2 separate regions of the Homo sapiens genome follow, and region 2 is reported to be linked to region 1. The links are microRNA targets in miRTarBase. Many come from high-throughput screens and were not tested one by one. Region 1 holds a microRNA gene; the other region holds the end of a gene's coding sequence.

What was found. Region 1 holds the annotated microRNA hsa-miR-6732-3p (UAACCCUGUCCUCUCCCUCCCAG, at 3,297-3,319, shown strand). A microRNA usually pairs through its seed, bases 2 to 8, with sites in the 3' UTR of a target mRNA and lowers its output. Matches are read on the target gene's strand: a 7mer-m8 pairs with bases 2 to 8, a 7mer-A1 pairs with bases 2 to 7 and ends in A, and an 8mer does both.
Region 2: the mRNA of POLR3D is a reported target of hsa-miR-6732-3p. Seed matches in the 3' UTR shown: 7mer-m8 at 1,212-1,218.

What each region holds. Positions count from the first base shown.
Region 1 is chr1:37,476,971-37,482,142 of GRCh38, forward strand. It overlaps MIR6732 (microRNA 6732), which reads left to right and starts at 3,260; the gene lies at 3,260-3,319. ZC3H12A (zinc finger CCCH-type containing 12A) reads left to right here. Exons shown (of 6, transcript NM_025079.3): 3 at 3,320-3,459; 4 at 4,631-4,865. RefSeq lists enhancers at 265-564, 1,955-2,781, 2,405-2,944, 2,718-3,012, 2,782-3,608.
Region 2 is chr8:22,249,860-22,254,859 of GRCh38, forward strand. POLR3D (RNA polymerase III subunit D) reads left to right here. Exons shown (of 9, transcript NM_001722.3): 8 at 216-368; 9 at 537-4,742. The coding sequence ends at 659. It overlaps PIWIL2-DT (PIWIL2 divergent transcript), which reads right to left. Exons shown (of 2, transcript NR_134293.1): 2 at 4,717-5,000. Among named protein-coding and RNA genes, the nearest start is that of POLR3D, 7.2 kb to the left of the region's middle.

The DNA of each region.
Region 1 (5,172 bases):
GTGGCCCCTGTGGGACAAGTTCACTGTCCAGCTGGCCCTGGCCCAGCTCAGCAGGCATGCAGCTGAGTGCTCTTCCCTCCTTCTGTCACCTTCAGGCCAGTCTTCCTCTCTCTGACTTGGGCTGAGCCTGGATGGGAGGCTGAGAAAATCCAGTTTCCATGCCAAGAGGCAGCAGGTCACAGCCCATGCTTCGAGATTAGAAGGGGTCCCTCTCAGTGTCCAGCCTCATGTAGCTGGGCTAGGAGCTAGGTTGGATCTGTGTGACTCCTTCCTCTGGAGGTATGGGCCAGGAGCGGCTGAGCCCTGGGAGCAGCCATATGCAGTATGTGTTTGTATCCAGAAGGAGGAGGGACATGGGAGGAGGGGCTGTGATGAGGGGTGCTCAGAGGAGCCTGCTCCTGAGAAGCAGAGCCACGCACCCACCTCGGGGGTTTCTGAGCTGGGGTAGTGGCAGGAGGGGAATTCCAGCCTCAAACTTCCTGTCTCAGCTGCTACTCGGTTCCTGCCCGGCCACCCCCCCTCCCCAGGGGCAGGCGGGCTAGCCCCCCCATCATATGCAAATCATGGGGAAATTCACCTCTGTTTCCTTCTAAGGGAATTTTTTTCCACTCGCCAGGCCCAGCCCAGGCATATCTTTTCACCTGGGGAGGCTGGCCCAGCCCTGCCTTCTGTCCTGGGGCAGGAGCAGCCTAGCTGGAGTCTTCTACACACACATCCTATCAGTGTCTGCTTAGCCCGGCTGGGGGACCCTGACCTTACAGGCAAAGAGAACTGGAATGGGGGCAGGGATGTCTGGTTTTCCTGTGCCAGCAGCGCTTCCTCCAGTGCAGTGAAAGAGACTAAAGCTAGCTGTAGGGGGGCACTCCAGGCCTCATGTGCTCTACCAGGAGGAGGGCTCTGATAGCGCCCACTGATCAGTTTTTCCATCTGCTGAGGGAATATTCAGGTGCTAGGGCTGCTGAGAACCGACTTGTCCCAGCCAAGATTTTCAGTGCCCACAGGCAGTGCACTGCCCTGAGAGCCCTGGCATCCCATTAGTTCCCAGTGCTCCAAGATACTAGCCTAGGATCATGTGCCCGGAGGGAGGCAGGTGGGCGGATACATGCGCACACTGCATACCTGAGACAAGGAGCCAGGCCTGGGATGACCCAGCTGCCATGGTTTTGAGAGGCAGGCCAGAAGGCCCAAGGAAGGGGGGTGATGTGATGGGGGAAGCACTGGGCATTGTGAAGACACAGACCAGGGACCTGACCTATTGTGGCAGGTCAGGGAAGGCTTCTCAGAGGCAGTGACATCTCACAAGGGTTCTGAAGGAAGAGCAGGAGTTTGCCAGCAGCATTGTTTCTCCCGTTCGCCACCTGTCTCTCATAACACACTTTGTTCAAACTCAATTTTGGGAGCTTTGTTCTCCCAAATAAATTCTGGATCTTCTGTTAGAGACAGGAAGGCAACCGAGTGGCCCAGACCTGGGTTCGAGTTCTGACTGTCTCTTACCACTAGCCAGGTGACCTTCCTTTCCTTCACGGTAGCAAGCCCTATAAGAATGAAGCCATATATCTGGCCACCAGCGGGAGCTCAGTGCCTGCGAATCCCTGCTCATTCCCTGCGATCAGGGTCTGTGCCTGCCTTCGTACCTGCCTGAGCATTGACGTACAGGGTAGTGATAAGCATAGGCCCTGGGCTTGCGTCTCTCTTCCACCGTTAACTGCTGTGTGACCCTGGTGACTAAGCTGCCTTCTCTGGACCACAGTTTTCATCTGAAAAACAGGGAAGGAGTTGATGATGGTATAGTGCCCTCCTCACAAGCTTGCTGATGATTCAGTGTTAGACACTTATAACAGGGCCTGGTTCACAGCTCTCAGCAAATGGGAACTTTTATTATAAGCAGGCTGGCAGATGTGGCAGAGGGACCGGGAAGGATGAGTGCTGCCCTGGGCTGGACTTTGTCTCCCCTACAATTTAGAGACCTTCAGACCCTGGTGCCCCAGTCTTGCCCCCAAATAGCCTCCATGGCCCCCAGCTGCCCCACCTCCCTCCCTAGCTTCTCTTAGGGCTCCAGCTATCACCCCTTACCTCCCCCACTCCCATTAAAGACACCCACAGGATGTGGTTGGCCCTGGACTTGCCTCTTTTGCGTAACATTTATTCTGTTTTATTTGCCAAATACGAGAGTCTAAGCTGTTCACTGAGGGGGCAGTGAGACGTGGGGCTGCTGGTCCTAGGAGCTCTTCCATGACACCTAGTGTTACCTGGGAGCCCCAAGCCCCAGTCCCCCATCCCTCAGGAAATCCAGTTGGAACCCCTACTTTGCAGGGCCATCTTTGGCCTGAAGCCACCAGGAAAGCTGTCCCACTGACTGACCCCTCTTAAGGAAGCTGCAGACTGCTGGGCCCATTTTCAGATAGAGGAACGGAGAGCTGCGGCAGCCCAGGAGCCCTGCCAGGCTTCCTTCTGGGTGCAGCCACCTGTGGGTGGGGCGCGGCCTCGTCTGAGACCAAGGCAGGGCCCATGCCTTACTCAGCTGTCCTTGCTAAGAGTCCCCTAGCATCTTCCTGATGGTCTTTCTGCCTTGGGGTGAAGAGGCATTTGGGGGAATTGCCATCTTGGGAGGAAAAGCAGTATCCTTTCACTTTCAGACTGAAAGGCTCCTGGGGAACTTGCTTCACTCCGGCGCTTTCTGTCCCATGCTGAAGGCTGGAGTCGCCAGCCCCTTCCCCTTTGCCTTTCTCAGGCCCCAGTCCCTGAGGTGTGTGTGAGGACTGAACTTTAATCCGGAACAATCTGGTTTCTCCTCGGTCAGCCCAGCCGGTGCTTCCCCCGCCCCCACCCACGCTGCAAGAGGCGAGGGAGGGGTGGTGACTCAGTGTGCATGTGTACATCTGTCCCTGTGGTCCCGGCAGCTCGCCGGGTGGGGCAGGAACCAGAAGTCTCGCGGCACCTTTCCCCCACCCCCAGGTGTGTTGCAAGTGGCCTGGCCCTCCCCCACCGTGGGGAGCAGTGCTGCCAGCTTCCTGGGCGCTTCCTCACTTTCAGGAGATGGAGCCTCAGGGAAAGTCCCAGCGGGGCCTGGCCATCCTGGAGCTGTGGGAACTGGCACTGGGAATGGAGGCCTTGGCCTTGGGCCCCACCTGCAGAGGGCCAGGGCCTGAGCCCTGGGGAAAGGGGAAGGGGCTGGTGACTCCAAAGGGGAAGGGACTGCTCACTACCACCACCAAAGCCAGGGCAGGGGTGGGGTGTGACCACCTCCCTCCTCCTGCTCAGGCCTAGGGGGTGGCAGGCTGGCCATCAGTGTGGGCTAACCCTGTCCTCTCCCTCCCAGCCATGGGAACAAGGAGGTCTTCTCCTGCCGGGGCATCCTGCTGGCAGTGAACTGGTTTCTGGAGCGGGGCCACACAGACATCACAGTGTTTGTGCCATCCTGGAGGAAGGAGCAGCCTCGGCCCGACGTGCCCATCACAGGTGAGTGGTGCCTCTGGAGGTGGGATGGTCTTACTGCCCCAGCAGCCCTGGTTCTCCCCAAGAGAGACCCTCTGGGAGTGACCTACAACTTCTAGAACTCAAGCAGGGACCAGCATTTCTTTTCTCAGTTTTTTCTGTCCTTAGCAACCTGCTCTGAATGGTGGTCATTGGAGGTCACCTTGTCCAGTCTTCTGCCTCAGATCTGGAGCCCCTCCCTCATCCTACTGGTGGGCAGGTCGCTCTTTCAACATCCCCAGTGGCAGAAGCGCAGTATCACATAGTGGTTAAGCCTGTGGGCTCTGAGTCGAGACAGCCAGAGTTGGAATCCTGGCTCTGTCCCCTCTTGGCGCCCTGGCCTGGACAGGGACCCCTCTTAGCCCTGCTCTGAGCCACATGCTCCTCATCTGAAACATGGGGTCGGTGTCAGCAGGGGGTGTTGACAGCATTGCCTTCCTCGTGAGGTCATATAAGTTAACACACGGTAAGTGCTGAGAAGAGTACCTGGCACATGGTAGATGCTCAGTGTATGTTAGCTGTTACCACTGTTCTTGCAAGAGCCCCCAGCCTTTGGAGGTAAAAACTGAATCAGTTTCTCTAGAAGTCTTGAGATCTGGGGGCAGCCTGTCTGGGACTGTAGGCTCCAGGAAGAGGGGCCCTTTCCACTTGCACACTTCTGTGTCCCTGTGGTCCCAGCAGCTCCCCAGGTGGGGCATGGTGAGTGGCCTGACCTTTTCCCACCATGGGATTTAGCGACCTTGTCCTGGCAATGCAAGGGACAGAGCCAAGATACTTCTCCCACCCCAGAGCAAGCTGCGGCTCATTCACGGACCCCTCAGAACAGGCTGGATGAAAGCCAAAGCCAAGACCACATCTGGCTTGAACAGGCCTGATGTCCAGAAGGAGAAAAGGAACAAGGCCAGCTCTGTGCTTGGAGCCTCTGCCATGCAGGCCCTGCCGCCTGTGTTCAGATGTTCTTGGTCTTCAGGCAGCAAACTGTGCCACGCCAAGGGAGGGGCTGGGGCATGGAAGAGGCCTCAGCAGAGTTAGTTCTTGCCCCGGTGACCTTGGCGTTAACCACTCCTGTGTGTGGCCATCAGCAGGTTAGGGAGCCCTGTAGGCCTGGCTCTAGGTCCCGCTGGGCCCTGACCTGTGTGCACCCGTCACCTCCCAGACCAGCACATCCTGCGGGAACTGGAGAAGAAGAAGATCCTGGTGTTCACACCATCACGACGCGTGGGTGGCAAGCGGGTGGTGTGCTATGACGACAGATTCATTGTGAAGCTGGCCTACGAGTCTGACGGGATCGTGGTTTCCAACGACACATACCGTGACCTCCAAGGCGAGCGGCAGGAGTGGAAGCGCTTCATCGAGGAGCGGCTGCTCATGTACTCCTTCGTCAATGACAAGTATGTTCCCTCCCAGAGGCCCTGACAGACTTGGGGTCCACAGGGGAAGCCAGAGGTGCCCTTGGCAAGGGTGGAGCTGGGGGCTGGGCTCTGCGGGGCCCTGTGGCCATGGGAGGTTGCGGGTCTTGGCTCCAGGCAGCTTTGAGAGTGAGACGGATAGCTCACCACATAGGAGAAATCAGACCGGGACCAGGCAGGCTGTGGGGTGGAGAGAGTGGCTAATTTGGGAGATAGAGCCGTAGCACTTATGAGGGGATGTATGTGGTTGATGGTTCCAGGTGGCCTCTCTACGAACCAACATGGCATC
Region 2 (5,000 bases), not on the chromosome of region 1:
TCAGCTTCAGCAGTAACTGATATTTTGTCCGTGTATGTATTTGTTTGCTGTGGGTTTTGTATTTTAACCATAGCAGACAGCCCTAGGAGAAGGCACTCTTTGGGGAGCTCATTTTGACCTTTGCTGTGCCTTTCTCTTGGGGAGTAGAAGGGGGTTCATGAAAGATGGAGGAAAGAGCTCCTAGCCCAGTGTCCATCCTCTGGTTTTCTCCGCAGGAAGCCAAATTGGCAGAGAATGCTTGTACCCTGGCTGACCTGACAGAGGGTCAGGTTGGCAAGCTACTCATCCGCAAGTCTGGAAGGGTGCAACTCCTCTTGGGCAAGGTGACTCTGGACGTGACCATGGGAACTGCCTGCTCCTTCCTGCAGGTAAGAGCCTCCTTAGGGGCAAGGAGGGACCCTTTCAGGAGTGAAGGAGGATTGAAGAGCCACTGCTAAATAAGGGAGGGGGTTTCTGGGAGTATCATGTCCCCATTCACAGCTCTACACGCCGGGCACGTGGTGGTGGTTCTCATCACTGTCTCTGTTAATTGGCAGGAGCTGGTGTCCGTGGGCCTTGGAGACAGTAGGACAGGGGAGATGACAGTCCTGGGACACGTGAAGCACAAACTTGTATGTTCCCCTGATTTTGAATCCCTCTTGGATCACAAACACCGGTAAAATGAGCAGGTGGAGGAGGACGGCGCCTGTGCCCACGGCTGCTGCCTGCTCCAGACATTTTGTTCTTGAATCTGTGAGACCCAGAAGGGGCCCACTGAGCCCACTCACTCCAGCCTTTGGCAACCATTGTTCCAGGTCCCCCAGGGCTTCCTCCCACAGCAGCTGTGAATGGCACAGTGACCTTCCTGCAGCGTGGAGATGGCACATCCTTGCTGCTGGGGACTTGGCCCTGCTATTTATTTTTGTATTTATGTCTTAATCTCTTCCACTGATGCATCCTCCAAGGGTAGATGGGGAGGGTCTGTGTGAAGGGGCCGGCTTCTCTTGGTGCCTGCTGGGTTGCAGGGGCAGGAAGCGTGTGGACTGCAGCTTCTGCTGGTGCTCCCCCCGTCCTCCTGGAGGCAGTATAGGAGAGAGAGCAAGGATTGAGTCTGAGACTTAAGCACTCGGTCCCAGCTTGCCAGTTCCTGGTTCTGTGTCCTTGGACAAACTACCTAACCTTTCTGAGCCTCCTATACCTCATCCGACACAAATGGGGATGATACCTACCTCCAGGGTTGGCGTGAGGATTCATGGGCTATTATAGATGAAAACTGCACAAGGCCAGAACCAGCAGGCACTCAATAAACGTTCATGTCCTTTTTCTCTACCTGAGTCTATTTTCAAACAAAATAGAGATTCTAAATCTCCCAGAAGCAGCGACTAGAGCTGCTCCCGTCCCCACTCTTGCCCCTTCCTGCTTTATATCCCGTCCTCACCCTGGGCCTGATGCCCTAAATTTATGGTGTCAGATTGTTCTATGCCTTTTTCTCCTGGCTCCTGTTAGCCAGGTGCCTCCTGTGTGAGTTACTGTAATAGCTGCAGGTAATAGAAAGGAAGAAGTCAGAGACCCCTCCCAGCACCCTACAAAAGCCTTTGGGGGACATGTTGGGCCCAGGACATGTTCCCTGCACTCTTTCCTTTGCAGTTAGTACTCATGTATGAGCCGAAGTCATATATTGCTAACAAAAAAACTAAATCCTTCATAAGAGAAGTTAGGGATGTATTGAATAATGGCCTCTTTGACACTTGGCCGATGATGCCCACTTCAAAAACTTTGGGTTTCAGAGGCCTGCCCGTCTCCTGTCCTAGCACTGCCAGAGCCACCTACTCAGTGTTACTTTTTTGGGTCTGTGATCCTGTTCCCTTTACCAGGTCATTGTACTGTGTTGTCCCTGGAGGAACAGCTTCTCCTCTTGTCTTGACAGTAGGGCTGGGGTTTTCCCTGGTTCAGCTGGGGAGACGTTTGCAGGTTAGAAAAAGGTCTCATGCGGCAGCGTGTGTGGCTGTTAGACGCTGATGGCACAACTTCCCTTTGCTGGCGTCGTGGCACCTGGCCTCTGGGACAGTATGAACCATAGGGGCTCAGGAAGAACCGCTTCCCCTCCACCCCCATCCCTGATTCCTAGTGGCCCCTTAGATTTTGGGTACATCTTCCTTCAGGCTCACCTTCCTTCTTTTCAAAGTTCCTCAAGCCTGTTACTCATTTGTCAAGGCTGGGCTTCTCCTACAAAGCCCTCAACCTGCCCAGCCAGCAGCTGTGAGGCTGACTGAATATTTGGTGACCATATCACCCTTTCTGGTGCTGAAGCTCATGTCAGCTCCATTGGACAGTGTTATTCTGGGCTCTTCTCACTGTAGAGGACTGGAGCAGAAAGGGTTCCTTGGAAACCTGTGCTGGGAAGCCCTGTTTGGTCTAAGGCTAAGCTTTGGTTAACTCTGGGCTCCAGCCCTTTCTTCCTTTAAATAGCTGATGCACGGCCAGCAGGTCTCCATTCTCATCCTCTCTTTCTATTCTGTTTCTTTGGTTCAGAAATACTCTTCTGCTTTTTTTGGACGAACTCAATGGCCCGATGTTAGATATTGGGTATTTTTCAATCTTCTGTTTTCTGACCCTTCCAAGAAAGTTTGAGGAAGAACATGTACTGCTTTCACGTTCATTTCGCCCATTCAGATGTCTTGGCTTGAACCTTATGACTCCGTATCAAAGTCCTCACAACCTGTCTCAGATCCCTGATGCACAAATTAGGTCTTATTAATAAGTGTGGGAAAAGAGAGGAGAGTCCACCTTCTTGGTCAGGCCCCTGAGGCATGCATTTCTACCAAGGAATATGGACAGATGACAGAGGAGAAGAGCCCAAAGCCAAATTTATACATGAGTGCAAGTGGATGCAAATTTGTTGCTCCCTGCATCTGTGTATATGCTTTCTGTTAAATACAGAAAGAAGGAACAATAGGCTTGCACACTTTTCTAACTACATGTTTAAGTGGCAGAGTCCAGGCTGTCGAGTCACGGTTGGGTTTGAATCTGACTCCACCAGTAACTTTGGTTGGAAAAAATCACTTATCCTCTTTAAGCTTGATTTTATTTATTTTATTTTATGTAAGAGTGAGACAGTAGTAGCTTAATAGGGTTGCTTTTAAATTAGAGTGAACATGAGGCATTTATTCGGTGCCAGACAGATAACTGCCTATAACAGGATGTGATCAGCACAAGTAACAGAAAATTAGCCTGACGGTGGCTTAAGCAATGGGAATGTTTATCTCACATAGCAAAAAGTCTGTAAATAGATGGTTCTAGAGTTGGGTGGAAGCCAAAATGTCATCAGGATTTCCTTGGAACCGTCTGCTTTGCCATCCTCAGTATTGCAGAATGGCTGCTCCTGCGCCAAGCATCATTCTGCAAATGATGGTGTCCACAGCCAGAGTGGACAGTAGTACAGGAGCCTTCTCATTCTGCCCTTATCCGGGAATAACCGTCAGCAGCTCCAGCAACCTCCCCCCTGTCTCTTTATAGAGTGGGGCCACGTGCCCACTCTTGGACCAGGCCCTGGCAAAGGGGGATGGGTCGACTAGTGTATCCCCTGGCACTGAGCACACTTGCCCTTGAGCTGGGGTTTTGTTAGTAGGGAGGAAGCTGGAGTGGCAGTTGGATAGACAATTCATAGTAGCTGCTGCCATGTTCAAAAAATGCTGCAATGTAAAATCATAAAGTATTCATCTAGGCATAACTTTTTAAAATATTCAGTCACCTTTTATTCTACTAAAATCAATTTTAACATTTTAGTGTATATTATTTTATTTTAGATTCAGCAGGTACATGAGCATGTTAGTTTTGTTTTGTTTTGTTTTGTTCTGTTTTGTTTTTTGAGATGGAGTCTCACTCTGTCGCCCAGTGGTGTGATCTTGGCTTACTGCAACTCTGTCTCCCAGGTTCAAGTGATCCTCCCGCCTCAGCCCCCCAGATAGCTGGGATTACAGGCACATGCCACCACACCTGGCTAATTTTTGTATTTTTAGTAGAGACGGGAGTTTCACCATGTTGGCCAGGCTGGTCTCAAACTCCTCACCTCAAGTGATCTACCTGCCTCAGCCTCCCAAGTGCTGGGATTACAGGCGTGAGCCACTGCGCCCAGCCACATGTGCGTGTTTGTGTATATTGCGTACTGGTGGGGATTGGGCTTCTGTCATACCTATCACCCAAATAGTGAACATTGTACTCAGGTAGCATTTCAACCCTTGCCCCCCCTCCCACTCACCCCCTTTTGGAGTGCCCAGTGTTTGCTATTTCCATCTTTATGTCCATAGGTACCCATTATTTAGCTCCCACTTATAAGTGAGAACATGTGCTATTTGATTTTCTGTTTCCGAGGTTAGGATAATTACCTCAAGCTCCATCCATGTGGCTGCAAAGCACATGATTTCATTGTATTTTATGACTGCTCATGTATATTATTTCAGCCTCCAAAATTTTGTATGTTATTTATAATGATATAAATTATGTGGTTTTATCGTGTACTCTATCTCACTCAGAAATACATACAATTCTTCGTTCCCAGCTACTCTGGAGCTGAGGTGGGAGGATCACTTGAGCCCAGGAGTTCAAGACCAGCCTGGGCAACATGGTGAAACCTTGTCTCTGAAAAATAAATAATACACACCCACATGCACACACATCCAGTTCTTCCATGTTAATGAGTATGTTGTGTTTCACATACTTCTGAATTAGCCGAAGGAATTAAAGGTAGCATCTTTTAATCCTCAGACTGCCCTGCGTGGTCCGATTGAATTGGGCAGTCAGCACTAGGCTCTTCAAAGGGAAACAGGCTTCTTTCTTAGGACGGTGCACAGTGAAAGAGTGGCACACACGCTGTTCATCCAGTGCTCCAACCCCCAGTCCTGGTGTCAGATACTTCTACATTTGGGGCATTTCCCCTTGAGATGGCTGTGGCTAGCGACACATGATGTGAACACCTCTCTTGGATTGTGGTTCGGCCGCACAAGGCCCCATCAGAGTTCTAC